2 separate regions of the Homo sapiens genome follow, and region 1 is linked to region 2. Evidence: fine-mapped expression QTL. Tissue or cell type: tibial artery. Region 2 holds a variant in brackets; the other region holds the start of a gene. All regions are shown on one strand. Distances are between the middles of the regions.

Region 1 (2,684 bases), 100 kb after region 2:
TGATGGTTGTACAGCTCTGAAAATTTACTAAACATCATTGAACTGTACACTCAAAACGGATGGATTTTATGGCATGTAAATTGTAACTAAATAAGGCTATTTGAAAAAGTTTATATTGTACCAGAAAGGTTAGCGTCTGGGCCTGGGTCTGGTTCTTCCGCTGCCATGCAGGTCGCCTGTCACTAACACTCCTCAAGAATTCTGCTCCTTCTCCATTTCCATTTGTAAAACGTTAGCAGGATGGTGCGGGGAGAAGGAGAACACATTATCAAATCTGAGATTCTGTGCAGTCACAAGACACCAAGTCTGGGAATTTCGAAAGGCAATCAGGCATAAATTCTTCCTGAGGTGAGAAAGAAGCAAAGGTACCGGCTGCTGGGGTCAGGGCTGTCTCACACGCGTGGCTCTAGGCAGGAGCACAAATTGAACCACTGGGGAAAGTAGGACTCCAGCAGAAACGAAGGCGCAAGGCCGAATCCCTAAGGTCCAACGAGCTAGCAGTCAGTTGACAGGGTTTCTAACAAAAACGCGGCATGCGTTTACCAAACCTAGGGTGGTTTTATTTCAGAAGTAGGAACTCTTTCCACGAGAGCACCAAGTTGAGAAGTTCGGTTCTCAGGCCGCGTGGACCTGACAGCTCTCAGAAGCTCCAGGCCTCGCTGGGTGGGGCGGGTAGCGGCCGCCGCTGCCTCAGCAGCCCTGGTCCCGGCAGAGCAGGGCTGGCGAGGCCGCTGCTGCCGCCGTCGGGGCCGCCGGCCCTCCACACTCGTTGAGACGCCGGCACGGGGACCTTCGTGCCCCTCTAGGGACTGGCGCCGCGTCCAGGTGGCCGAGCCTGCGCTGCTGGAGGAGGCGCCTCCGCGCCGGCCTCACCCCGGGGCCGGCAGGGGGCGAAGGCGGAGCTGGAAGTCGCCGCCGGGCCCCGGGGGACCGGCTCCCGCGCTTCCTCCCGCGCCCCCCGCACAGTGCTCATGCGCACGGCCCAGCCTTTATAGCGGCCGCGGGGGCCTTGCCTTCCGCACTCGGGCGCAGCCGGGTGGATCTCGAGCAGGTGCGGAGCCCCGGGCGGCGGGCGCGGGTGCGAGGGATCCCTGACGCCTCTGTCCCTGTTTCTTTGTCGCTCCCAGCCTGTCTGTCGTCGTTTTGGCGCCCCCGCCTCCCCGCGGTGCGGGGTTGCACACCGATCCTGGGCTTCGCTCGATTTGCCGCCGAGGCGCCTCCCAGACCTAGAGGGGCGCTGGCCTGGAGCAGCGGGTCGTCTGTGTCCTCTCTCCTCTGCGCCGCGCCCGGGGATCCGAAGGGTGCGGGGCTCTGAGGAGGTGACGCGCGGGGCCTCCCGCACCCTGGCCTTGCCCGCATTCTCCCTCTCTCCCAGGTGTGAGCAGCCTATCAGTCACCATGTCCGCAGCCTGGATCCCGGCTCTCGGCCTCGGTGGGTGCGCGCCCCTCACGACCCCGGCCCCTTGCTCCGCTGGGTGGAGGCTGGAGCCAGCCCTCACGCTTCTCTCTTCGCAGGTGTGTGTCTGCTGCTGCTGCCGGGGCCCGCGGGCAGCGAGGGAGCCGGTGAGTGGGGGAGCTGGGGTGCGTCCAGGCGGTCGCAGGGGCTGAGCACCAGCGGGTACAAGCGGGACTCAGATCCAGCCCCTTGGGCTTCAGCCCTACCGCCTGAGGAGGAAGGCGCGAAGGTTGAGCCGCCGCGTGGCGCGCCCGCGTTAACCCCTGCAGCCGATCTGCTCCTGCTCACCTGTTTCTCCCATGGTAGGGGGCCCCTGGGGTCCAGTGGGGGGACGTTCTCCAAGAGCACTAGGAAGAAGGCCTCCTCCAGGCCCACCCACAGCCCCAGACCCCGGGCCCGCTGAGCGCCGGCAGCAGGAGGTCGAGGAAGGAGGACTCCTTGAGCCTCACCGAGGAGCGCACCAGTCCTGGGCTCTGCTGCGTTTGGGGGTGGAGGAGAAGCCGCCCAGACCCGACTTCAGGTTGCCGTAGCCGAGAGAGAGGGAGGCGAACGTCGCTGTCCCACCTTGTTTGACTCGCTAGCTATGTTTCTAGGTGTAACCCCTATAATCAGAAGCACTCGCGGTCTCACTCTACACGCTAGAGAGTTTAAAAAGTTTGTACCACGTGTAGAGGTCCGGGTATGGGTGTGTGGTTTGGTGTATTTTCCAGTGTAAAAGGCAACGCTTTCCTAAGAGCTACCGTTTGTTTTCCTTGAAAGTAGGAATGAGGGTTAAGTATCCCTCATGGCTGTATTTCTCCCGCTCTACTTAACAAAAGTCAGTGTTCGCAACTAAAGGCGGTCGGTCTTGGCACCGGATTCCGATGCCGCCCCCATCTCAGCGGAAAATGGGAGGAAGGATTAAGGCTGTTTGATGATAGGTATGAGGCTGTTTAGGGGTAAGGATTTTAACCTCTCAGCTCTCTAGACTGCTTCAGAGCTAAGAAATGGGCATTGCGCCTGCATCCTTCCTTCTCTTCCATGGAATGTAAGGTACCTGTCACCACAAAGGGCACAGAGGAGGGTGCTTGTCACAGGCAAGGTACTCAGTTGGACAGTATGGCCAGAAAGTATTCCTCTGCCTTGGAAAAAAAAGGTTTTTAAAATTAATATATGTTTTAAAAAGGTTTGGATAACTACAACTTCCCATGTTTGAAAAATAGCATTTAATAACATTAATCTCAATTTA
Region 2 (2,684 bases):
CTTCTCTAGTGTTCAAGATTAATGTTCTCTTCCTTTGTCCCTTCCACATGCCGTGCTGGAAGAAATAAGGACCAAAACAAATACAAAAGGGTAGGGAAGAGTCTTGTTTTGTGACTTTTGTTTTGGTCCTTATGTCTTCCCACATTGCTGCTGAGGCTCTGGGATTTCCCCGAGGACTGCTCTTCTGCACATATTGTTTTTCTGACACCTTTTAAGTGGCTGTGCCCTTTCACACCTAGAGAAAACTGTTCCTGTATCCCTTCAAAATCTACGATAATCTCTACAACCTTCTGAAAACAAACAACAATGTATTCTTTGATATGTCAATAGGGTTCAATTTAGCAGTGATTCACATATGGTACTGCATTTTGAACTGGTGACTTCCATTTGTGAGCTACTGCTGAATACTCATCTCTTGAATTCTCAAACATAATTTGCTGTTTTCTGTGCTGTTGAGAGGCATAACCCTCTTTCCATCTAAGTCTTCAGCACAGACTGGAGGTCATCCTCCTTTCCTCTCTAAAATCCCAGGAAAAGCTCTCCTGGACTTTGGCTTCTCAATATCAGTGGTTGAGAAACATGCTGTAGCTTCAAACTACAAAATAGTTGGGGTGATCTTAGCTATATAACAGGCAGAGGAAAATGGCAAGGAATGCCAAGACTATGAAAGTTTTCAACACAATTTGCAGTATTAGAATCTGAGAGCTACGAATTAAATTTGTTCATGCATTCACACACTGATTCACACATATTCTGAGTGTATAATTCATTGCCATACAATGTGCTAGAGGCTGAGGAACGTCCTCTATGCTACATTTGCCAGCATAAAAATCTTCCCCACCATTGTCTGATTTCATGTGTGAAATGTAGAGTGCTTCCTCTAACTTCATCTGTCCAACAATATTATGGTGTAATAGATTATATTTAATAAGTTCTATGCCATATCCCTTGGGGGTACAAGTTTGACTGCATATTTCCAGACAGTGGGGAAGCAGCTTTCTCATTAGATGAGGAGATTGTCAAGGCACTCTGCAACTGCCCTGTTTTGTTGACTGTATACAGACTTCAAGACAAACCACTGACCCAGGCCCATTCAAAGCATCAGCTTGTTAACAAGGACTGAAGCCCAAGTCTGGTTATGGTCACATAGCACCCAGATCATGTAAGGACTGGGCCAGCAACACTTCCCGGTAACGCAGAGCTAAATGGTCCCACTGAACTCTGCTTCACAGACAGTATTCGGTCCAAAACACATGGGTCATCCAAGAAATATGAAGCCAAATTAAGGCGGCCAGAATTCCCTTTGAAAGGCCAGCAGACAGCATGGCGCCAGCATGGCATCAAGCTCC[A/C]GACCAACATCAACTTCTATAAATCAGTGGTAGGAGGATCTAACTTCTTTTAATGTAGGATAAAACTTGGACCCACCACAGATGTCACATCTGACTTCTTCCTCAGGCCCTCTAGTGTTCCCGGTCAGCACTCCTGAATATTAAGTAACAGATCCAAAGTCACTTAAATCCTGGGATGTGATCAGTCCACCAAAACTGGAGCCACATTTTACTGTAGTGTAAGTCCATAGACCACATAGTCACAACACAAAATCACAGCAGCAGTTACCTTGGGGGGTTCCTAGCTGGGAGAGGGCATGTGAGTGTTTTTTAGATGGTGGTAATAGAAGAGAGAGACACACACCGTGCAATTACTAACTAGCACAGTGTCGATTTCACATTAATGTTTTCTTAGAAAGAAAACGAGAAAGTTTGGGTTGGGTTTCTTGATTTTTTTCTGGATATTTTAGGTGTTGGGTAAATCTTAAACACCATTATTCCGCTAAATACCTCCCCACCCTCCTCCTCTTCACCTCACTGAAACAACTGATGACTAAGAGCAAATATCCAGCCAAACCAATAATGGTATCATCAAATTGTGGGGACAAGGGCTTACAAGCACACCTGTGCTGTATGATTTTTTTTAAGGTAACTGGACAACAATCACACACTAATAGAGGAAGGATTCCAAATTTCCAGGTTTTCATTCCAAGGCTTTTTCTGCTAGGTAAGAGCAAAGGAAAGATATTTAAAATGAAGCCAGGCTGAACTACTTTATTGATGAGGCAGTCCTAATAAAGCCTGAAACCCATAAGATTTAAGTGATAAACTATGAAAGTAAAGACTTTCAGCTTAGTGTTACGGGGGGAGGGAAAAGAAAGTGCACTAATTAAGACATACCACCCTGTTATATTCAGGTGGTCCATTCAGGAATCACAGTTCTTAACCAAAAAGCAAGGACATTTACTTTTAGAAACATTCCAACAGAGTGAAATTCAGTACAAAAAAAGAGACGGGGAAAGTGGAAAAACAAGTTCACAAGTTTGGTGCTTTGAGCTTGTATTGAATTCATAATTTTGAAAAACAAATGTATGATATTTCATACATAAACCTAAAACTCATGGAATGGTAGCACACACTCACAGTGAAAAACAGCCAAAGATAATGGTAAGCTATAAACTCCATTAGAGTTCATCTAGTTTACCCACCCCACCTTTATAGATGGAAAGAACAGAAGCCATACCTAGGGATGAGGACAAACCATAGGTTTGGCAAGGACAGTAACCTTAATGCCACACAAAAGCCTAACACCTTTGAGATGGCCTCCTCGCCACACTGGCTTTGCCATCTTTCCAA

Which allele goes with the higher level. Alleles are on the strand shown, and positions count from the first base shown. SD is a standard deviation of normalised expression in the study named.
For the expression in tibial artery of the gene that starts at base 1,019 in region 1, allele A in region 2 goes with a higher level than allele C (small effect, 0.21 SD a copy in GTEx).

The links. PIP is the estimated chance that this variant, and not a neighbour inherited with it, causes the effect.
Region 1: it holds the start of COCH, and the variant in region 2 is fine-mapped to the expression of COCH in tibial artery (GTEx, PIP above 0.99).

What each region holds. Positions count from the first base shown.
Region 1 is chr14:30,873,541-30,876,224 of GRCh38, forward strand. It overlaps COCH (cochlin), which reads left to right and starts at 1,019. Exons shown (of 12, transcript NM_004086.3): 1 at 1,019-1,051; 2 at 1,376-1,432; 3 at 1,516-1,563. The coding sequence starts at 1,399. COCH-AS1 (COCH antisense RNA 1) reads right to left here. Exons shown (of 5, transcript NR_038356.1): 5 at 2,639-2,684. RefSeq lists a silencer at 581-1,100.
Region 2 is chr14:30,772,296-30,774,979 of GRCh38, forward strand. No RefSeq gene overlaps it. Among named protein-coding and RNA genes, the nearest start is that of COCH, 100 kb to the right of the region's middle. The variant A/C (reference allele first, on the strand shown) is at 1,350.